2 separate regions of the Homo sapiens genome follow, and region 2 is linked to region 1. The links come from fine-mapping of genetic effects on gene expression. A gene starts in region 1. The other region holds a variant in brackets. All regions are shown on one strand. Distances are between the middles of the regions.

Region 1 (16,204 bases):
TCCATTGTTGGTGGTCTATTTAGGTTTGATACTATTTCTTAAATCAATTTAGATGATTTACATTTTCCTTAAGGATTGTAAATTTAATGTAGTTGTACATAGTATGCTCTTAATCATTTAATAAGCTCTGTTTGGTTTTTTTAGTTTTTAAAAATTTTTGTAAAGGCGGGGTCACACCATGTTGCCCAGGCTGGTCTCGAAGTCCTGGGCCCAAGCGATCCTCCTGCCTTAACCTTCCAGTGTTGTGATCACACCATTGCACTCCAGCCTGGGCATAGGGTGAGACCCTGTCTGAAAAAAAAAATGCAAGTAAAGAGATGTTTTGCTATATTTGTTGTTAATTTCTAGCTTTAATGATCTATGAACAGTATAGGTCATAAGGTTTTTATTTGGGGGAATTTATGTAAATTTTCTTGGTTACATATTACACAGGCAATTTTAAAACTAGTCCATGGGTTGTTGAAAAGAATGTCTATATGTGGAAAGTCCTATAAGAACACCGATATCTACCAAGTCAAGTTTATTAATTATGTTAGCCAAAACTTTAATTATTACTTAACTGATACATCAATTTTTTCTTCTCTGAGTTCTTTAGTTATTTCCTTCCCCTTGGTCTCTCCATTCTTAGTTTCTGGAATCCCTGTGTTGGTCAACATCGAATCTCTTGGAGCTAGTTTACATGTCATTTAACATTTTTTGATTTTAACCATATTGAGAATAGAAGGATAATGATTTGGCTTTAGAATCCAAATGCCACTGAGTATGTGAAATCAGCTGGCAATTGATTGTGTAAGTACCACTCAAATGATAACATTTAACAGGTTAATAAAACAGCACAAATTGGGGAAAACTCATTGGGATGCAAATGATCAAATAGCAGAATGCTGAACTTTATGAAAAGTCAGTTCAGTCAAATATTTACTAAGCATTCTGTGGATGGTGTAGGCACAGGGCAGTAGAAGCTACTGGCCTGCTCTCATGACAATGCAGGCCTCTTGGAGAGACAGGACACACACCCATGCAATACAGTTATGCAACATGGCATAAATTATTTGACCAGTGGGAGATGGGAACCAATGGATGAATTCTCCCCTTTCTTTTCTCACATAAAGGGATACAGTTTATAGGGCTTCTTGGAGGACTAATCCATGGAATCAAGCAATTTTACTTAACAGCAATTGGTTTAATAACGCAACCTGAAATAGGTTCTCCTCCTTTGCTGTTTTACTCTCTTTGCCCCTCTCTCCTGCTTCCTGGGATTTCACTCCCTCTTAAAGTGGTAGCAAACTGAGGTTAGGAGTTCGACACCAGCCTGGCCAACATGGTGAAACCCCGTCTCTTCTAAATATACAAAAATTAGCTGGGCGTGGTGGCAGGAACCTGTAATCCCAGCCACTAGGGAGGCTGAGGCAGGAGAATCCCTTGAACCTGGGAGGCGGAGGTTGCAGTAAGCTGAGATCATACCACTGCACTCCAGCCTGGTTGAGGACAGAGTAAGACTCCATCTCAAAAAAAATAAAATAAAATAAGGCCAGGCGCAGTGGCTCTCACCTGTAATCCGAGCACTTTGGGAGGCCAAGGCAGGTGGATCGCCTGAGATCGGGAGTTCAAGACCAGCCTGACCAACATGGCAAAACCCTATCTCTACTAAAAATACAAAATTAGCTGGGGTGGTGGCACGCGACTATAATCCCAGCTACTCAGGAGGCTGAGGCAGGAGAATCGCTTGAACCCGGGAGGCGGAGGTTGCAGTGAGCTGAGATAGCACGATTGCACTCCAGCCTGGGCGACAGAGCGAAATAAATAAATAAATAAATAAATAAATAAATAAATAAATAAAAATAAAAAATAAAGTGGTAGCGCAAAGCCCTTTGCCTTGGGCTCTGCTTGTTTAGGAACCTATGCTAAGACAGCCTGTAGCTGAAAGTCCAGGTAAAGTTGATTCAAGGGCTGCTCAAAAGGCTGTTTCCAGGACTTGGTTTTTCTTGGTTTTACCTGGGTTAGCTACATTCTCTGACAGGCTCTCTCCTTTTGGTACTAAGATGGCCCTGGGAGCCTCAACAATGAATACTTCCAGGTTCATATTTCATGGGAAAGAGTCCTTATCCCAAGACCTCAGACAGAAGTCCCAGAATTGAGTTATTGGCTCTGATCAGCCATCCCTAAACCCATCACAGTAGTTAGGAGAATGTGATGCTTTCGCTGGCTTTTGCCTTGTCAAGAGTCTCACTGGAAGCTCCTGGATGAAGGGTGGGAGAGGTATAGGTTCTCACACAAAAATCGCAAGTCTCACTAGAAGCTCCTGGATGAAGGGTGGGAGAGGTATAGGTTCTCACACAAAAATCGCAACTGTTGCTGGAAGAAAGGGGAACAGATGTTGTCTAGGCTAACAACAAGGAAAGGTGGAAGTAATCAACCCTCCTGGTACCACAGTAGAATTTTCTACAGAAAGGTTTTAGTTTTTTCAGAAACCGTAAGTTTTTTTTACTTAATACCTTGCCACATAATCTTTTATTTTTTCTTTTCTTTTCTTTTTCTTTTTTTTTTTTTTTGTGACAGAGTCTCGTTCTGTCACCCAGGCTGTAGTGCAGTGGCATGATCTCGGCTCTCTGCAACCTCCATCTCCTGGGTTCAAGCAATTCTCATGCCTCAGCCTCCCAAGTAGCTGGAACTACAGGCACGCACCACAACAGCTGGCTACTTTTTGTATTTTTAGTAGAGATGGGATTTTACCATCTTGGCCAGGCTGGTCTCAAACTCCTGGCCTCAAGTGATTCATCCACCTCAGGCTCCCAAATTGTTGGGATGACAGGCCTGAGCCACCGCGCCCGGCCAAAACTTTTCCTTTTGTTCCCAAGTGGATAGAAGTATTGGTCTCCAGGTGGGGTCTGTATCTTCCTTAAAAGACAGTAAGTATTTCTTCTTCAGAACAACCAAACAATTGAAGAATATTCCATTGGGTGATAAAACTACGTCTAGCAATTGAACACACATTGGCAGGGCAATTCCTAAGTATCAAGTAATGTACTATGCTCTGGGGCATTTAGAGATAAATAAAATGTGCTCCAAACAGAATTCCAATAATGTCATTTCCCAACTGAAAAATCACCCAACATCTTCCCGTCTGTTAAAGGCAAAATTCCAGATTTCCTCCCTTGGTAATCTGGCCTCTGCCTACCAACCAGCCTCCTCTCTAGATTCTCACCTCTGAACCATCCACAGCAGCCACTCTGAGCCACTTACCCTTCCTCAAATATTCTGTGTTCTTTCATTGGATTAAGCAGCGACCTAGCAAAGCCATCAGTCAATACTGATTGACTGCAAGGCACTATAAAGCTCGTGTAAAGGTACATGCTTTCTGCTCTTAAAAAGCTTGGAATCCAACAAAGGCTAGGACATAAACACACGGAAGGCTAAATAAACTAATAATTAAATAATAATATAAAACATCAAGCCATGGGATTCTGAGAGGTTTTTTGAAGGTGAAAAGGACTGAGTTGGCAACACTGTATCTGACAGAAGAGAGTGTTAATAATACTTGTTTGTAGTTTAAAAGCAATTTCACATGTATTTTTACTTGAGCTGAATCAAATGGTACTTGAATTTCTGCCAGATGTAAGAAGCAGAGAAGGAAGAGAAGGAGGAGAGGAGGAGGAGAAAGTAGGGAAGGAGGGGAAGAGGGAGGGGGAGAGGAAGGAAGAAAATATTCACATTTATGGGGGGCTTGACGGTTCATAGAGCGTTTTCACAGGTGTCACCTCAATTGATTCTCACACAACTCTGAGGGTAATTATTGCTTCTAATTATTTATAAGATGAGGGCTGAGACTCAGAGTAGCCATACCCAACTAATACCAGGTGGCAAGACCCAAACACAAATTCTCTAATTTTGAATTCATAATTTTTCTTCTCTGCTCCACTGCAGCTGAGATAGGAAGTGGGGGCCATGTTAGGATATCCAATGTTAATACAATGGGCAAAGTCTTAAAAGTCAAAAGGAAATATTTGAAGTAGTTATTAGTAAACAGTGTGAAATGTGACAGAAAGGTCAAGAAGACAGAGGCCTAAGTAAAAATGATTAGAACTGTTTTTGTTTGTTTGTTTGTTTTTGAGAAAAGGTCTTGCTCTGTCACCCAGGCTGGAGTGCTATGGAATGATCACTTGCCGCTTGGAACTCCTGGGCTCAAGGGATACTCCCACCTCAAACCTCCTTAGTAGCTGGGACTACGGGTGCTTGCCACTACACCCTACTAATATTTTTATTTTTTTTGTAGAGACAGGGGTCTCGCTATGTTGCCCAGGCTGGTCTCAACCTCATGGCCTCAAATGATCCTCTCTCCCATCTCAGCCTCCCAAAGTGCTAGGCTTATAGGTACCACTGTACCTGGCTTGCTTTTTTTTTTTTTTTAAGCATTTATGGATAACCCAGGAGTTAGTCAGGACCTTATAAAGTGAAACAGTAGATTGAAAAGCAAGGTTCTAGGCATCAAAATCACATGTTTAAAATGTTTGGGCAAGTTCTAGAGTGAGGTTTATGACCAGGATCCTCTTCAGCCACGTATCTGTACACAATATGCAAGATACTCATACAAATTGAAGCAAAACACAAAGACCTCTAAGAGAAACATGGAGAAAAGGCATAGATAAAAAATTTATAAAAACAGTAGTACAACGAGCTGACAAACATGTCAAACTCTATTCATCCTACATGTAATCAAAGAAATAAAAATTAAACAACAGATATCATTTTACCTACCAAATTAGCCAAGGATAGAAAAAAATTTTTTAGTAGGCAACGCTGGCTAAAAATGTAGTGATTTTGCAGTGCGTATCCTCTGGGAAGGTAAAAAAGTACAATCTCTCTGGAAGGTGGATTGTCATTATGTTACCAGCCTTAAAAAATATTCCTTCTCTTCCACTCGCTAAGTTTGCTTATAGAATCTAGCTCAGGGAAATAGAGAGGTAGCTAAAGATTTACATATAAAAATGCCTGTTAAATATGTTTGTTTTTAATACAGAAACATTTTCAACAACTTAGATGCCCAGCGATGGTTAAATAAATTATTCTAAATCCATAGAGTAGAATATAATATGCAGTCATTAAAAATGATGATTGTGACAAATGCTTAATGTCAGGAGAAAATAGGAAAAATGTAATGTTAAGTGAACTGCAGGATAGAAAATTGCGTGTGTGATAGAAACTCATTCAGAAAGAAATGGAGCAAGATGGTTAGCACTGCATGGAGAGATTAAAGATGATTGCTATTTTCTTCTTTATTTCTATGTGTTCCAAATTTGCTATAATGAGCATTTCCAGGTTTTATAATGAGAAAGAAGCCCTGATATTTTAGATTAGAGGAAAAATTTATTTTGGCTTTTTTGAAAATCAAGTTCAGGTTTCCTTAAAAGATGTAAAATTAGTGTTTTTGCTGGAAATACTTCAGCTGCAAGTCATGGAACACTTAATGTCGGTTAAAAAGTGGACCAGACCTAGGCAGTGACTAGCATTGGTGAGAACCCCTGTCCCTGTGATTAACTTGCGTTTTATTCATGGTTTATTCAGTAGGAGCTGCTGCAGCTCCTGCCATGAGATCCATGTTCAAGGCAGGAAGAAGAGAGAAGTGACCCAGTGGTGATTTTTAAAAATGGCCTCAAATTCTTTGACACTCCTCCATGAGAGGTGGTGGTTATGTCCCCTCCCCTTGAATCTGGCTGGTGGTTACTTTGACCATTAGGGTGTAATGGAAGTGGTGCATTGTGACTTATGAGACTGGGTCATAAAAGGCCATGCAGCTTCCTTGGTGGCAGCTTCCATGGTGGCAGCTTCCATGGTGGCCAGGCATGGTAGCTCATGCCTGTAATCCCACTGCTTTGGGAGGCCAAGGCAGGAGGATTGTTTGAGGCCAGGAGTTTGAGACCAGCCTGGGCAACACAGCAAGACCCTATCTCTAGAAAAAACTTGAAAAAAATGGTTTTAATTTTTAAAAAGTTCACTCTCCAGAAACTGCTCTGCTTCCTCTCAACTGCCACGCTGTAAGAAGCCCAAACCACAGGGGAAATTCAGAGGCCATGTGGAAACGCTCCAAACAACAGTGCCAACTAAGCCCAGCCCTTGAGTCACTGCAGCCCAGGTGCTAGACATGTGCTTTGAAAAAGCTTCCAGGTCCATGCTGTCCAATTCAGAAGCTGCTGTCCACATGTGATTATTTAAATCTAAATTTCATTAAAACTAAATTAAAGTAAAAATTCAGTTCCTCAGTCACACTGGCCACATTTCAAGTGCTCAAGAGCCGCATGTGGCTATTATATTTGACAGCACGGATATGGCATATTCCCATCACTGGAGGAAGTTCTGTTAGACCTGCTTCAGATGATACTTGAGCATTTGAGCCTTTCCAGCTGAGGTTCCAGACACTATGGAGCAGTGATAAGCTATCCATCCCCTTGTGCCCTGTCTGAATTTTTTTTTTTTTTTAAGACGGAATCTCTCTCTGTCACCCAGGCTGGAGTGCAGTGATGCTATCTTGGCTCACTGCAACCTTTGCCTCCTGGGTTCAAGTCATTCTCCTGCCTCAGCTTCCTGAGTAGCTGGGATTACAGGCACAAACCACCATGCCTGGCTAATTTTTTTGTATTTTTAGTAGAGAGGGGGTTTTGCTATGTTGGCCAGGCTGGTCTCGAACTCCTAACCTCAAGTGGTCCGCCCTCCTTGGCCTCCCAAAGTGCTGGGATTACAGGTGTGAGCCACCAGGCCAAGCCTGAATTTCTTACCTACAGGATCCAAGGGTATAATAAAATTGACCTTTTGTGCCACAGTAAATGCGTGTTTTGGATAGTTTTTCATGCAGCAATAGTAACTAGAACAAACCTCTCTGATAGGAAAAGCATAGCACCCTCAGAAACCATCCCAGCTGACTTCTGTTTACATCTTATCTGCAGAACAGTGTCACAGTGCCACCTCTACTGCAATGAAGCCTGGGAAAACATGCATTTAGCTCTTCTAGCCTCTTTAGTCAGGAAGAAAAGGGAATGAGGATGGGGCATGGGAAACGGGTGAGCTGGCAACAGTGTCTGCCACAATTGGTTATATATATAAAATCACATTCTATTTTAGTAAGCAGAGCTGCATAATAACATATGCAACCCATGCTTTAAATGTATTTAAAGTACTCTAATAACATTTGCTCTCAGAGTACTTTATATAAATGTTCTTTGTACTTAGAATGTCATGAACACCGTATCACTCCTAGAACCCGCACTATAATCTCTTTACTGAAATCAAAATCTTCCTCCTCGGCTAATGGAAAGAAATTGCAAGATTTGGTTTGGATTTTGTTCATCAAGATAATAGAAAGTGAGCAAATTATAAGGAAACATTCTCCTATCAGACCACGTTGCTTTAGTAGGCTTGTTCAACATTATCTAGTTATCTTTTAATTACAAATGTCTGTGTGCCAGTGTCTTCTGGAGACTATATAGCCCTCCACTACAAACCCATGTGAAAAGCCACAGGAAACCACACTGAGGTTTCCTCAGACGTAACTGGATTGCCTTTTTTTGAGAAATGTTTAGAAGAGAACTGGTTTACTTGGTTTTCAATAACTCAATGACTAGAGCATGATTTAAAAAATTAATTTTAGGCCAGGCATAGTGGCTCACGCCTGTAATCCCTGCAGTTCAAGACCAGCCTGGCCAACACGGTGAAACCCTGTCTCTACAAAAATACAAAAATTAGCTGGGCATGATAGCGGGTGCCTGTAATCCCAGCTACTCGGGAGGCTGAGGTGGAAGAATCACTTGAACCCGGGAGGCTGCAGTGAGCTGCACTCCAGCCTGGGCGCAGAGCGAGACTCTGTCTCAAAAAAAATTAATAATAATTTTAAAATGTGTGTGCTATGATTTATGTTGCATGACCGTTTAAAAAGAAATAAATAAAAATCACAATAAGAACATTATGGGGTTTTTTTGTTGTTGTTAGTTTGAGACAAGGCCTCCCTCTGTTGCTCAGGCTGGAGTGCAGTGGCACGATCACTGCTCACTGCAGCCTCGACCTCCTGGTCTCAAGAGATCCTCCTGCCTCGGCCTTCCAAGTAGCTGGAACTACAGGTGTGCGCCACCACGCCCGGCTAATTTTTAAAAAATAAAAGAAAATAAAATAGAAACGGCCTCGCTATGCTGTATAGGCTGGTCTCCACCTCCTTGTCTCAAGAGATTCTCCCACCTCAGCCTTCCAAGTAGCTGGGACTACAGGTGTGCATCACCACTCCCGCCTTTTTTTTTTTTTTAAATAAAATAGAGATAGGGGTCTCACTGTGTTGCATAGGCTGATCTCGAACTCCTCGGCTCAAGGGATCCTCCCGCCTCAAGCCTCCTAAAATGCTGGCATTACGAGCATGTGAGCCACCTTGCCCTGCCTGTCTTATTTTCAAATAAAGGTAAAAGGTTGATTCCTTAGAAGTGAAATGAGTCGGCCGGGTGCGGTGGCTCATGCCTGTAATCCCAACACTTTGGGAGGCCGAGGCGGGCGGATCACGAGGTCAAGAGATAGAGACCATCCTGGCCAACATGGTGAAACCCCATCTCTACTAAAAATACAAAAGTTAGCTGGGAGTGGTGGCGCATGCCTGTAGTCCCAGCTACTTGGGAGGCTGAGGCAGGAGAATCACTTGAACCCGGAAGGCAGAGGTTGCAGTGAGCCAAGACTGTGCCACTGCACTCCAGCCTGGCGACAGAGTGAGACTCTGTCTCAAAAAAAAAAAAAAAAAAAAAAAAGAAGTAAAATGAGTATTAATAATTATACACCATGTGATAGCTATTCTCCTGTAACCCTTTCTCAATTTACAAGGAAGCATATTAAGAATTAGAAAACTTAGGATGTCTCTATCTCAGAAATCAAGGTGTTGCATGTGTGTGTTCTTGTGTGGATTAGGTAATAATTCAAGGCACTTTCAAGAACTGTATTTTATGAAGATATTGGAAGTTATTTTTTACCAAACGATTACCTTTATTGTAAGGGCCCACTGGGAATTGTGTAGAATGTAGGGATGTGAAAGGCAAAGGCTGTAGTTTCTAGTGACTGTTATTTGCTCAGAGAGAGGAATACCTCTTGATTGTGATACACTTGGAGCCTAATATCAAATTCTTTTTTCCTCCATAAGTCTAATTCCCTGCACAATTAGCAGTTAGCCCTCCACTCCCCTGCACAATTCCAAAGTAAATGTTAGATAATAATAAGCCATATGCAGAACTTGGATAAAGAACATTTTATACCTCGTGACTGGCAATGTTCAGAGATGTGAATCAGTTTTCCCTTTTATTTGCAATCCATATATATGTATTTTTTTTCTTTTTTGAAACGAAGTTTTGCTCCTGTTGCCTAGGCTGGAGTGCAATGGCGCGATCCCAGCTCACCGCAACCTCCGCCTCCCGGGTTCAAGTGATTCTCCTGCCTCAGCCTCCCGAGTAGCTGGGATTACAGGCATGCGCCACCATGCCAGGCTAATTTTGTATTTTTAGTAGAGACAGGGTTTCTCCATGTTGGTCAAGCTGATCTCGAGCTCCCGACCTCAGATGATCCACCCACCTTGGCCTCCCAAAGTACTGGGATTACAGGCGAGAGCCACCGCGCCCTGACTTGCAATCTGTATTTGAAGAACAGCTGCAGTATATATGTTAGGAACATTGAGTTTTAAGGGCGGAATATTTTATTTATTTATTTTTTTGAGAGAGAGTCTCGCTCTGTCGGCCAGCAGGAGTGCAGTGGCACGATCGCGGCGCACTGCAACCTCCATCTCCCAGGCTCAAGCAATTCTCCTGCCTCAGCCTCCCAAGTAGCTGGGATTACAGGCGTGTGCCACTACACCCGGCTAATTTTTGTATTTTCAGTAGAGACGGGGTTTCACCGTGTTGGCCAGGCTGGTCTCAAATTCCTGAGCTCAGGTAATCTGCCTGCCTCAGCCTCCCAAAGTGCTGGGATTACAGGCGTAAGCCACTGCTCCCAGCCAAGTGTGGAATTTTTTTTTAATTGAAGGAGACATTAGATATGATCTAATTCAACCCTTTTTATAGGTGAGAAAACTAAAAGTTTATTGAAACTGGTGTGAAACTCAGACCTCCCAGTACCCACCCTTCATTGCTTTTTCCAGTATGCCATGGGGCCTCCGTGTGTGTTGTTTGTGTGGTGTGTGTGTGTGTGTTTATATTTGGTCAGACATCTTCTTACACTCCTAGGCCAAGCAGCAATAACTCATAAATTTTTGACATCTACATTTCTGACTTAAAAATGCTTTTAATGCTACTGATATTTAATCAGTACCTATCAGATGACTGCTCTCATATTTCAAATCTGGAATTACAGATTGAAGACATTCAGAAAAGAGAACTTGTCCCTTCTCTTTAGAGAATTATTGAAAAGTACAGATAAGTTTGACAAAATTACAATTCATCTATCTTTAGACATTTTAGTCTCAGCCATGCCTAATATGCCCCCCCAATATAAAATTACTAATCAAGACACATGGTCCCGCAGTTCTAGATGTTTGGTACAGTACCATTATTTGCCTAATGGTAAAAGAAGTTGTGCTTCTAGAACACGTGAAAAATGAAGTGTTTCTTTTGGTAAGGCATTCCAAGGATATCCTGTCTAGTTTCTTGAAATTTCTGTGCTTAATTAGAAAACTAAAAATAACTCACTTTTATTACAGATGGACTTGTCATTACAGAAAACCAAAAACAAACAAATAAAAAAAGAAAACTGAACAAATCATTTATATTTGACGCTTTGATGACATTTCAATGCAGAGGAAGGGACATTTTAATTTAAATGCTTTCACAGTTTTGCCATACTTTCACATTTCAATTCCACTCCTGTTTGCAACTAAAAAACCCAAACACTCAAAAAAAAAAAAAAATCACATTAATCAGAATTTAAGGAGTCACTTAGTAAAACTATGTTTTAGGAATCTGTACAATAAACATGAAATCAGTCACCTGACCACTCCCCACCCTCAGCCCATTCCACAAACCCATCTTCCCACCCCTTCTCCTACGCATTGAGCCTTCAGAAATACCCTTTCTCAGTGCGGTTCCTTCTAAAAAGGAGAGGCGGGAGAGTCAGGGTGGAGAAGGCGGCTCCAACCAGATTTTGCGTCCACAAAGCCAAAAGCTTCTAGGCCTGGCATGTACGGCGGGTTTGTGCCCGAGGAGCACAGCTGGTCTACACGGGCCCGCCCCGTAGACACCCTACTCCTCGGTGAGCTGCGGTTTAACTTCCTTATAGCAGGTTGAGAGTGCAGGCCCCAACGTTTGGAGGGGAAGGCGGCGCCCCAACTGGTGTTTTTCCAGGAAGTGCTCCAAGAATGGAGAGGAGAGGGGAAAGGGGAAAGGGGAAGGCCAGGCGATGGGCGTTTCATTCATTGCTTCTTTCTCCCCGTCCCCTCCTTCGCTCCCCCCAGACTTTCCCCTTTTCCCAGTCCGAGTTTGACGTCGGTCTCCTGGATACCAGGCAGCCAATCGCCTCGTTGCGAAGGGACCAGCGCAGCCAATCAGGCGTCGTTGCTACCTGTGAGTAATATTTTTAGCTGAGAGGGACGCTCGATTCCACTCCCGATGTAATTTCGTGTATTTCTCTGGGGCAGGTTGTGAAAAAGGCACTTACCCGCCCCCCACCACGAGTCCCTCTCTTACCCCACTCCCTAGGTACCCGCACATATTTCAGCCAAGAATGATCTTAAACGCGCTTTACAAGCAGGCACCGCGTTTATTCTGTGCACCTGCGATCCAGCAAGCCCTAGAAATGCACGCATGCGTGTGTGTGTAGACATGGACACAGATACATACGCAGTTTGGCCTCGTGTCGCCACACTCTGGGCACGGCGTGGGCTGGGACATTTGGAATAAACGGATCCGAGTCGCAGCCGGGGTCGCACCGGGAGGCCTGAGGCTGCGGAAGCAGTTAAACTGCCGGCGGGGCGGGAGCTGTGGCGGCCTCCCTTCCCCACCCCCAGCCCGGCTCCACGTCTTTGGGTTCTGCAGCTGCCACTCTCTGGGTGGCGGTTGGCCTAGGCCTTGGGGTGATTAATATTCAATTAATCGGGTGCACAAGTCCCGGTCACAGTTTGCCCTTTCTCTACCCCGCCCCTGGGGTGGGCTGGAGGCCGATTTGGTAGCTATTCCACGAGCAGGATCCTCCTTGGCCGCAGACCCCCGCGGAGAGGGCACTTTCTGGGTACTCTTGCCGCTCCTCCAGCCCCGGTTCTCCTGAGCCGCTTCGCCACCAGCTTCGTCCCCCTCCCCCTCTGCCCGGCGCTCTCCGCCTAAACCGGGCGTCAGCCGCCCTACCCCACCCCTTTCTCTCTCATTGGCACGTCTGCCCCCACAGTCCCTTTCCAGACGTTCTCTTCATTCCGTCCCCAGTGCTCCGATCGTCGGTTCATTGGCCCTCCTGGAGCCCGGAGGGTGCGGCTTCCCCACCCCTGCGTCCGCCGCGCGTCCGGACAGGGGCAGGCGGGACTTGGCCAATGGCGTCGGGGGGCAGGGCAGGGGCGGAGCCGGCCGGCGGGGGACCGGGGTGCCGGGCGGGGAGCGCGGGGAATGGCTGCGCCGCCGGAGCTGTGTGACGCGGAGCGGGCGCGCGCACCCCGACGGAGGGGATGGGGGCGGGGAGGAGGCCATAAAACGAGAGGCGGGGCGCGCGCCGCGGCAGAAGGAGCGAAGCTCTGGCCCGGCGTGTAGCGGGCGCACTACGGGGACGCTGGGCCGGGCACCGGGCTGTGTGGAGAAGTGAGCGCGCTCGTCTGACCCCCGTGCCCGCCACCCCGAGCCACTAACGGCGATCTCCCAAGGCCTGCCCGAGGCCTCTGTCCTCTGTCCTCAGCCCCGCAGCGGCAACGTCTTGCACTCGGCGAGCTCGCCGCTCCCGACCCTCCCGCGCCCCCGCCCTGCCGCGCTGCTCCCCGCCCAGCCGCGGGTCTGTGGTCCAAGCCGCCCCGAAGCAGCCCGTAAGTATCTCGGGGCGCCGGGCGGGGTCGGCGAGGAGACGGGAGCCCCGGGCCCAGGCGGCGGAGGAGGGGCTGCAGCGGCGTCGAGCCCTGGGCCCTCGGGAGCTCGGGGACGGCGGGGTCGCGGCCCTGGGCGCCGAGGGGGCAGCGCCAGGACCCGAGGGGAGCGGCTCCGAGGGGCCGCCGGCGCGTCGGGCTCGTCCTGGGCAGTTGGCCGGGGACGGGCGGCCCGGGGCGAGCTGACGGGAATTGGGGGGTTGGGGTGCCCGGAGGAGCGACGAGCTCGCGGTGGAACGCTGGGGTTCGAGGGGCCGGTGGCCGCGAGGCTGAAAATGGTGCCGAGGAACCGGTGCTCCCCCAGGCTCTGGCCGGCTCCCAGGAGCCCGGGGCGGGGGCCACGGGGCGGGGAGCAGCGGGTCGGGTTACGGCGGGGGAGGGGAGCGGCTGACCCGGCGCCCCGACCTGCTCGGTGCTGGGTGCCCAGCCGGGAGAGGTTGCTCTTCCATTTCCCGGGCCTTCCTCCTCCTTCTCCGAGGAGGCTCGTACTCTCTTCCTCCTCCACCTCCACCTCCTCTTGCTGTTGCTGCTGCTGTAGCGCTTGGGCTCCGAGGGCTGTGAGCAGAAATCTAATGAGATCTAACTGGCTGTTTATGTAATTCTTCACACTCCTGCCTGTCTTAAGGCGTTGCTTTGTAACTACCTTCCACCGAGCCTGAATTTCGCTCGGCTGCACCTTCAAGCAATTGGGCTTAATCAGCTGCCTCTGCCGGCACTCAGGCTTTTGACTTGGAAAGTGTTTGTAGTTTGGGGGCAGCCAGAGATTCTTTTTCCCTTTGTCACCACGAATATGGAAAATAGAACAGACGAATTAAGACCAACTTGATTTTTAAACGTACTTTTAAATCAACTTCAGTGTGCAAATAGATCCCTTTCGCAAATATCTTCTGTTTGCCCTTGATCTTTTCTTATCCCCACCCAGTGCTGATCCAGCAAACGTTTAAAGGTCGACCTTACCATACTTGCCTCTCCGGCTGTTACCGTGAGAGGGAGGGAGGGAGAGAGGGACAGACGGAGGTTTTTTAAAATCAGACTAAAACTCAGAAACCCTGGCCTTAAACAGAATAATCAATAGTTTTAATTTGTGTCTTTGCTTTTGTTATACTTGCTGCCGAATAGGTATTTTCAGATTTAGAAAAATACACATTGAAAACAAAAGGCCCAGAGAAGCTGGATTTTATTATATTGTATGCTCTTAGTATACTTAAGGCCGAAACTATATAGAATAATTTGGTTCATAATTATTTACTAGGATGAAGTTCATTTAGTACTCAGTGTCTTTAATTTTAGCATCATGTACTATGGAAATTAAAATGATCTTCCTAACGTAACCAAATTTTTAAATGTCAGTGACAGAGCAGATTTAAACAGTATATATCCAAAGTAAACTAAAACATGGATTCACTTCTAAGTTGGTGAATAACAATAAAAATTACTACCTAAAAGTGGCATCTATATATATGGGGGTGGGGGGAGGATGCTGAGTACAATAAATATTCTTGTGAGAACTGAGGAGAGAAGAATGCATGTTCTAGAGATTTTTCTTCTTAGAACTCTATTCAGAAACAGGTTTTTAAAAGCATTATTTCATTTGTAAATCTACATTTTCCTGTGTCATTTTAAACTTTAATAAACGATTTTCTATTTTATGTTTATTTTGTGCTAGTAACAGTTTTCAGGCTTTCTGTCCTAGTAGACATTTTCTTTTTCTTTTTATCCTTAGCAGACTAACACAGGATCTTAGACATTTTGAAAGGTGAAATTACTTTGGAGGGGGGAAGGTCATGGGACTTATATTACATTTATCTTATTTGGATATGTTTGCTTTTGTTTTAAGGAACAAGATCACTCAAGGTGAAGGATAATCTACTAATACCAGCACTTTGAATGAAAATTTGTTTCTCTGCCACAAACTGAACATCTTTTTTTTTTTTTTTTTTTTTTGGTGGGGGAGTTGAAACCTAATTTTGTGGCGTAGCAGCTATGCAGCTTGAAATCCAAGTAGCACTAAATTTTATTATTTCGTATTTGTACAATAAGCTTCCCAGGAGACGTGTCAACATTTTTGGTGAAGAACTTGAAAGACTTCTTAAGAAGAAATATGAAGGGCACTGGTATCCTGAAAAGCCATACAAAGGATCGGGGTTTAGATGTATACACATAGGGGAGAAAGTGGACCCAGTGATTGAACAAGCATCCAAAGAGAGTGGTTTGGACATTGATGATGTTCGTGGCAATCTGCCACAGGATCTTAGTGTTTGGATCGACCCATTTGAGGTTTCTTACCAAATTGGTGAAAAGGGACCAGTGAAGGTGCTTTACGTGGATGATAATAATGAAAATGGATGTGAGTTGGATAAGGAGATCAAAAACAGCTTTAACCCAGAGGCCCAGGTTTTTATGCCCATAAGTGACCCAGCCTCATCAGTGTCCAGCTCTCCATCGCCTCCTTTTGGTCACTCTGCTGCTGTAAGCCCTACCTTCATGCCCCGGTCCACTCAGCCTTTAACCTTTACCACTGCCACTTTTGCTGCCACCAAGTTCGGCTCTACCAAAATGAAGAATAGTGGCCGTAGCAACAAGGTTGCACGTACTTCTCCCATCAACCTCGGCTTGAATGTGAATGACCTCTTGAAGCAGAAAGCCATCTCTTCCTCAATGCACTCTCTGTATGGGCTTGGCTTGGGTAGCCAGCAGCAGCCACAGCAACAGCAGCAGCCAGCCCAGCCGCCACCGCCACCACCACCACCACAGCAGCAACAACAGCAGAAAACCTCTGCTCTTTCTCCTAATGCCAAGGAATTTATTTTTCCTAATATGCAGGGTCAAGGTAGTAGTACCAATGGAATGTTCCCAGGTGACAGCCCCCTTAACCTCAGTCCTCTCCAGTACAGTAATGCCTTTGATGTGTTTGCAGCCTATGGAGGCCTCAATGAGAAATCTTTTGTAGATGGCTTGAATTTTAGCTTAAATAACATGCAGTATTCTAACCAGCAATTCCAGCCTGTTATGGCTAACTAAAAAAAAGAAAATGTATCGTACAAGTTAAAATGCACGGGCCCAAGGGGGATTTTTTTTTTCACCTCCTTGAGAATTTTTTTTTTTAAGCTTATAGTAAGGATACATTCAAGCTTGGTTAAAAAAATAATA
Region 2 (8,000 bases), 74 kb before region 1:
GATGAGCAGAGGGTGTGTGGCATGGGGAACTGGCCCCTAGGCCCTTCTCAGAATTCCCAGTACAGTTACGTGAATGTTCCTTCTGCTCAGGTTTCCTGGGGATGCCTAGGCTGGGGCCTCAGGGGCTGAGTCTGGGCAAGAACCCAGCCCCTCCTCCCCCCGGGAGAAGCTTCCAGCTGTTTAGATTCATCCCTCAATTAAAAAACATTGCCCCCCTGTGCCAGGTTTCACCCAGAGCCACGTACAAGCTAGCCCAGTGGGTCTCAGCCTTTCGGATTTCTCACATCACTAACATTTCAAAAAAATAAAAAAATTTAGGATCTGACGTCGTCACCAGTTTTGTTTTTGCGACAGAGCCTCGCTGTGTCACCCAGGCTGGAGCGCAGTGGTGCCATCTCAGCTCACTGCAACCCCCGCCTCCTAGGTTTAAGCGACTCCTGTGCCTCAGCTTCTCGAGTAGCTGGAATTACAGGCGTCCGCCACCATACCCAGCTAATTTCTGTATTTTTAGTAGAGATGGGGTTTCACCATGTTGGCCAGGCTGGTCTCAGACTACTGGCCTTAAGCGATCTGTCCACCTCGGCCTCCCAAAGTGCTGGGATTTCAGGCATGAGCCACCACACCAGCTAGTCACCAGTTTTTTTATTTTGCTGAGTTTGAGGTCATTAAAAGGAAATGTCAAAGGAAAGGTCCTTTTGTGCTCACACACACAGACACACACAGACACAGACACACACACACAGACACACACACGATTGAAAATACAAAGCTCAGATAAAAGGACAGTCTTTTGGATTGAGTAAACCTAGCTTTAGTAAAACCTCACTATATTGTCCTTATTTTTCTCATTTTGCTGCTGGCAGATGAGAACATGGCGATGGCTGGCACTGGGCACCGGCTGAGGGACTTGTGCTCCAGGAACTGTTGGTCTTGCCACTCCTCCGCCTGGGCCCAGTGCCAAGGGCAGCCAGCTCTGCTCCGGGGAACCCCTCCCCAGCACGTATCTCCCAATCTCTCATGCACCGGTCACTGCCACTTTTGCTTCTATCTTCCTGTCCTCCATGCCCCTCCCCCAATATTTGCAGGAGGGGGAAGGTGGGGAGCAGGCTTCACACAGCTCCCAGACTAAAGATGGCACCGCTAGCCGATCACTGCAGCCCAGAGTCCACCCATGGGGAAGTCACACGTCGCCCGCTCCTTGGAGGGGGTCTCTGCTGTGGAAGGTGCTGGTCTGGGCAGGGTCAAGAATTCCAGAGTGGCCACCGCTTCCTGGCCATGGGATCTGAGATGAGTCCCAGAACCTCCTTCCTTGAGCTTCAGCTTCTTGTTCTATAAAATGGGCATATTAACTCCTCATCACAGGGCTGGTGCAAGGGTGGTGTGAGTGACAGAATGTTTGTGAAAGTCCTTGCTGAGCTATAAAGCTTAGGTAGGGGTAGTTATTATTACGATGGGAAACTAGTAAATGGCTGAAGAAAGAGCAGCCCAAAAGCTGACCTCAGCCTCTGGGTACGAAGACAGTGCTCACACCCACCCCCAGGTCTGTGATCTGGGGCCCCTCCAGCCCCACAGAGGAGCAACGCCAGCCTGACCCCATGAGTCAGCAATGCCAGGGCTGGACCACGGCATTCTGGAAGTCGGAACTAGGCCTAGTCTGTGTTGGAGACAGGGTCTGCTGTGTTTTTGGAGAGAGGGTCTGCTTCTGTTGACTTGTAGTGGCCCCACTATGTGGTTATTGCAGCCGACGGCCCCTCAAATTGTAGAGAAGTGTGCGAAGGGCCTCCCCAAGGCGGAGCCCCTTTTGGATGGATGGAGGTTTGAGGATTCAAGGTGTTCGCGGAGGATCGGATTTTAAGGGCTGTCCCCGCCCCCGCTGTGTCACTGTGGGGCAGTGTGGGAAACACGCCCACCCATGTTCCTAGTCCAGTTCACCATTCACTCTAGCTGTGTGGCTGCCTCTCCCAGCCTCAGTTTCCTCATCTGTCAAATAGGGACAAGAGGCCTTACCTTCCAGGGCTGTTGTTAGCTTATTGGGACCCCATGCAACAGTCCCTGGAGGGTTTTCAGTCCAAGGGAGCCCCCTGCAGACCCTCCAGGAGGTCCTCCCCACAAAGGGAATCCAGCGGTCCTGAGGAAGCATGAGCCTGGGCTGCCTCCCCACCCAGAGTGGATCCCCCACCCAGCCGGCCTCCAGCGCCCTGCCCCCTCTCCCCACCTGCTCAGTAGTCTGGTCATGAAGTCATTGCCACCTTCCCCAGCCTGCACCCCCACCACCCCTGCCCCCATGCTGACATCCCATTTGGCAAAGAGGTTGGAAAAGCCGCTGACTCTTCCAGACCCTGAGTTCATTGACTGGTCAGGGCGCATCGGCCACAGGCTGACCATGTGGCCAGAGGGGGGTTTGCAGAGTGAGGGAGTGGCCCCTCCAGGCCTTCCTCCCCTGCCTCAAGCCTCCCCCTGACCACTAAGACACTCCTCCAATATCCGCCCACACCCCAACTATACATACCTGACCTACACACATGTGGCCCACCCCCTACACACTTGCTGCAGACACTCCTTACACCCCTCGTAAACACATGCCAAGCACACACTCCCCTGGGCAGCCACCTACCTACTGAGGCACACCCAGCACACCAGACTCCCACACATATGTGTATGTGCCACTCCCTCATACGCTGGTGTGAGCTGTTGGGCACCACCAGCTACCCACGGCCACAGCTACTCCTGGTCCACCATGGCCCAGCCTCTTGGGCTGCATCAGGCAGATGCACCTGGCCTGAGCCAGGCTCTGGTGGGAGGGTCTCTGGCCTGGGGGGGGTCTCTAGATCAGAGGCACAGGCGGCCAGACTTGAAACGCCTCATCTCAGCCAACCCCTTCACTGCTCATTTGTGGAAACTGAGGCCCAGAGAAGGCAAGGAGTGGTCAGGGGCTGGTCACGTCACACAGGCAAACTCCTCCCAAGCGCCTCCAAGTGTCTGAGAGCGTGGCAGAAAGGCGGGCAGCCCAGGCTCCCTCCGCCCTCAATGCGCTCCTCAAATGTCCTGACTCAGTGGGTCCTCTTCCATGAGTTCTTCCAGGATGACGCCCAAGACTGGGTGAGCTTTTCACCCTCTGCCCTGGGTGCAAGGTCATTTGAAGCTAGGCAGGGGGCACACCCACTGTTGGGCCTCAGCCTTCACAGGCTCAGGATGTTAGTGTCTCACATAGCCTTGGCCTTGCTCAGCAAATACCCAGCGCAGGCTGCAGTCCCACAATGCACTACAAGCCTGGCCCTCCCACTCCCTGCCTCAGTCTCCCTCCCTAAGACTCACCCATCAGGGCCCTCAGCAACTGCCTAGACTGTGGCTCCATCATGGGGCCCTAGGCTCCAGGGAAGGACTCTCTTTCCCTTGGACTGTCAGCTCCACAGGATAAGGATTTTTGCCTGGAAAGGTGCCTGGCACCTAGTAGGTGCCTTAAAAAAAAGCTGTTGAGGCTGGGCAACGTGGCTTATGCCTGTAATCCTAGCACTTTGGGAGGCCAAGGTGGATGGATCACAAGGTCAGGAGTTCGAGACCAGCCTGGCCAATATGGTGAAACCCCATCTCTACTAAAAATACAAAAATTAGCCAGGCATGGTGGTGGGCACCTGTAGTCCCAGCTACTCAGGAGGCTGAGGCAGCAGAATTGCTTGAACCCAGGAGGCGGAGGTTGCAGTGAGCTGAGATCACACCACTGCACTCCAGTCTGGGCGACAGAGCAAGACTCCGACTCAAAAAAAAAAAAAAGTTTTGAATGGTCCTGGCGTGCAGTGGCTCATGCCTGTAATCCCAACATTTTGGGAGGCCAAGGCAGGAGGATCGCTTGAGGCCAGAAGTTCAAGACCAGCTTGGGCAACATAGCAAGACCTCTACAAAAATGTTTACAATTAGCTGGGCATGGTGGCACATACCTGCAGTCCTAGCTACTCAGGCTGAGGCAGGAGGCTCACTTGAGCCTGGGAGTTTGAGGCTGCAGTGAGCTTTGATCCCACCACTGCACTCCAGCCTGGGTTGACAGAGCAAGACCCTGTCTCAAAAATAAATACATAAAATAAAAATGTGTTGAATGAATGGGCCAATCTTGCGACCCCAGCCTCCTTTCATGAGGCTTCTCCAGACCAGAATCAAGAGTTCTGGGAGCCGTTGGGAAAAACCATCAGGCAGGAGCCGGGGTCTGCCGTGGATGGCTGTGGGACCCCGACGCAACCACCTTCCCCTATGGCCTTCAGCTGCCATCGAGCAACGACGGCCTGGCTGTTGGAGGATGCGGTTTGCAGCCTGTGATTCTGGGACCACCTGTGCAGGTGCTGCCCCAACCAGGGCTGGCTGGCCCCCACTGGCTTGGGAGAGGGCACCCCTTTGGGCAGACACGGGCTGGGGAGCCCTATATTGTAAATAAGGCGGTCACTCAGAATAGACCAGGACATTGGCAACTCGGGAAGCCATCAAACACGAGTAGCTCCTGCTCCCC[G/C]CTTCCCCCCCACCCGCACTCCACCGCCCGCCACTCACATGTGGCGGGGCCGCCGCAGGAGCGCAGGGAGGCTCCGGGTCAACATCCTGCTTCCTGCAGGGCCTCCCGCGGGGCGGGCGGGGGAGGGCGCACAGAGGGGTGTTTGTTCGCAGCGGGCGGCGGGGAGGAGATAGATGCTAATCGCTGCGGATCGCCCGCCCCAGCTTAAGGTCAGGAGGTAACGCGACCCGCGGTTATAAATAACCGCTCAGGGCGGCGGCCGAGGGCAGCGCGCTGGACCCGCGCCCCTCGCCAGCCGCCGGGCCGGCTTGATTACTGCCCTCCCCGGCCCGACCGCGGGCACCTGAACGCCGACAGCAGAGCACGGCGACCTCTGGGGCTAGCGCGCAAGGTCAGACCAGGTCCAGGGCTTCCCTGCCCTCTGCGGGGACCCTGGAGCACCGACAGCCCCACCTCCCCACCTCCAAGCCCCACTCCCATCTCCCACCAGGGGCAAGAAGGTGGAGGGAGGCCAGCGGACACAACCCGAGGACCCAGGCGGCCTGCGCCTCCGCGCCAAGCCTGGGGGTGGCCGATGGCAAGGGAGGCCCGGAGTAACCCAGCCAGTGAGGGCCAGGCTGCAGCTAACACTGATCCTGCTTCTGGGGCCGACACAGGCCTGGTCTGTGATGGTGGGACTTACCAGAGCTTAGTGGAAAGAAAATCCCTGAGTCTGGGGCTTCAGGAGTCTCAGGCTGGGGAGGGACTCTGGTAGCACCCATGAGGGGACACGTGGTTGTGCCCCAGGGAGGCCAGCCACCTGCTCTCCACTTGCCCTTGGATAGAAAAGGGAGGTGGATTTAACCTGCTCCAGGAGACATGACTTTTATTTTTAAGACTTTTTAAAATTGAAGTTAAGCACACACACAGAACACTGCACAAATCAAAGTGTACAACTGAAAGAATTTGCACATGCTTTGCATACCTGTGCAACCAGCACCCAAATTAAAAAACAGCACCTCACCGGCACCCAGAAGCCCCTCGAGACCCCTTCCACCTACTGTTCCCGAGTCCAGCCTCTCTCCTGACTCAGCCCGCAGGCGCTCTGGCCTGCTTCTGAACTGTGTGTAGATGGAGCCATACAGTGGGTGCCGTTTTGCGTCTGGTTTCTTTTGCTGCATATTATGTTTGTGAGGTTTGTCAGTACTCTCACAGGCAGTCAAGGGCTGTTCGTACCCATTGCTGGTGGCTTGCCATTGTGTGGCTCTGTTAAAATGTATTCACCCATGTTACTGCTAATGGACATTTGGGGAGGTTCCAGTTCCTGGCTATGGTGAATAGTGCCACTATGAACATTCTAGTTCCTGTGTATTGTGAACATATGAATGCATTTCTGTTGGGTGAATACCCAGGGCAGGGATGACGGGGCCCGGCTGTGTGTCTGCTCAGCTTTGGAAGATACAGGAATGTTACTTTTTAATCATTTCAGTAAGAATGATTTTTCAAGGTAAGTTTTTGTTTTCCATTCTATTTAAAAACAAAAAATGATAGTGGCTCATGCCTGTAATCGCAGCACTTCGGGAGGCCGAGGTGGGCGGATCACTTGAAGCCAGGAGTTCAAGACCAGCCTGACCAACATGGTGAAACCCTCTCTCCACAAAAATACAAAAATTGGCCGGATATGGTGGGCACCTGTAATCCCAGCTACTTGGGAGGCCGAGGCACGAGAATCGCTTGAACCTGGGAGGTAGAGGTTGCAGTAAGCCAAGATCACGCCATTGCTCTCCAGCCTGGGGGATAGAGCGAGACTCTATATCAAAAAAGAAAGAAAGAAAGAAAGAAAAATTAGCCAGGTGTGGTGATGCAATCTGTGGTCTCAGCTACTTTGAGGCTGAGGTAGGAGGATCACTTGAAGCTGGGAGGTTGAGGTTGAAGTCAGCCATTGCACCACTGCACTCCAGCCTGGGTGACAAAGTTTGCCCCCTGTCTCCAAAAAAAAAAAAAAAAGATGGACATTATTTACAGCTGCTGTTTAGAGTGACCCATTCAACCATTCAACAGATAAGAGCCTAAGAGCCTCTTCCCTGGCAGATACTGGACAAGAGAGAGACCCAGTTCTTCTAGAGCCTGGGGACAAGTGGCGACAGCAGGGGCGTCACTGAGGGAAGGACCAGGGAGTCTCAGCACACCCCGTGATCCTCATCAGCCACCCCTTACCCACCGCAGCTGCTCCTCACCCACAAACATCCAAACTGAGACCCAGAGGACTTCCCATGCAACCGGGACTCAGGGCAGAGGCTAAGGCCTCCGTCCAGGCAGGCTGCACACGGGAACTCGAAATGGGCAGTCTGGATGGCAGTAACACAATGCATCACAATCAAGTAAGAAGAGGGCTGAGAGAGGAGGAGCAGGTGCTGTGGGCACAAGGGGCTGGCGGCAGGTATGTGGCTGAGTCAGACAGGAGGCTCAGCAGGAGGAGCCCAGGAGGGAGCAGGAGCGTGGAGACAGGGTAGGGGCAGATGGCTCTGGACTCTGGACCTAATCCTGAGGGCCAATGAAGGGGGTTAAGCCTGGGAGTGAGCAGATCAGACGTGCTTTTTTAGCAAGATCATTCTGGATCTCTGTGGAAACTGCCTTGTGGTGATGAGAGCAAACCCTGAGACCACTGGGGTCCCTGAGCTGATAAGCACCAAGGCAGTGGGCCGGAGAGAGGAGAGATGTTTAAGAGGTGTCCTGGGTTGGGTGCGGTGGCTCACGCCTGTAATCCCAGCACTTTGGGAGGCCGAGGCAGGTGGAACATTTGAGGCCAGGAGTTCAAGACCAGCCTGGCCGATATGGCAAAACCTCATCTCTACTAAAATACAAAAATTAGCTGAGTGTGGTGGTGGGCACCTGTAATCCCAGCTACTTGGGAGTCTGAGGCATGAGAATCGCTTGAACCTGGGAGATGGATGTTGCAGTGAGCCGAGATCATGCCATTGCACTCCAGCCTGGCAACAGACCAACACTCTATCTCAAAAATTAAAAAATAAAAATAAAAGAGGTGTCCTGGAAGGACCTGGGGCATAGCAGGCTCTGGGGAATGGGGGAAGAGGAGGCATCAGGAAGGTGTGAGGAATGGATTGGGGAAGACATGGTAAAATTACAGATTTGGGAGAAAGGAGTCATTCGCTCGCAGAGGTTTTGGTGAATTTCCTTCCCATGTTCCCATGTTTCTTTTTTTTTTCTTTTTTAAGACAGAGTCTCACTCTGTCACTGAGGCTGGAGTGCAATGGCACGATCTCGGCTCACTGCAACCTCTGCCTCCCGGGTTCAAGTGATTGTCCTGCCTCAGCCTCCCGAGTAGCTGGGATTACAGGTGCACGTTACCACGCTTAGCTAATTTTTTGTATTTTAAGTACAGACAGGGTTTCACCATGTTGGCCAGGCTGGTCTCGAACTCCTGGCCTCAAGTGATCCGCCCACCTTGGCCTCCCAAAGTGCTAAGATTACAGGCGTGGGCCACTGCGCCCGGTGTCCTTCCCAT

Evidence for each region. PIP is the estimated chance that this variant, and not a neighbour inherited with it, causes the effect.
Region 2: its variant is fine-mapped to the expression of TOB1 in whole blood (TOPMed, PIP above 0.99).

Annotation. Positions count from the first base shown.
Region 1 is chr17:50,862,851-50,879,054 of GRCh38, reverse strand. TOB1 (transducer of ERBB2, 1) reads left to right here and starts at 12,701. Exons shown (of 2, transcript NM_005749.4): 1 at 12,701-12,997; 2 at 14,892-16,204. The coding sequence starts at 15,038. The coding sequence ends at 16,075. TOB1-AS1 (TOB1 antisense RNA 1) reads right to left here and starts at 12,376. Exons shown (of 2, transcript NR_038458.1): 1 at 11,838-12,376; 2 at 10,684-11,559. RefSeq lists silencers at 12,366-12,875, 12,886-13,495 and an enhancer at 14,036-14,085.
Region 2 is chr17:50,941,378-50,949,377 of GRCh38, reverse strand. LOC124904102 reads left to right here and starts at 4,208. Exons shown (of 2, transcript XM_047437263.1): 1 at 4,208-4,328; 2 at 4,747-5,985. The coding sequence starts at 4,208. The coding sequence ends at 5,249. LOC124904029 (a long non-coding RNA gene) reads left to right here. Exons shown (of 2, transcript XR_007065849.1): 2 at 1-325. RefSeq lists silencers at 4,557-4,616, 4,627-4,676, 4,737-4,796 and enhancers at 3,747-4,629, 4,630-5,513. The variant G/C (reference allele first, on the strand shown) is at 4,496.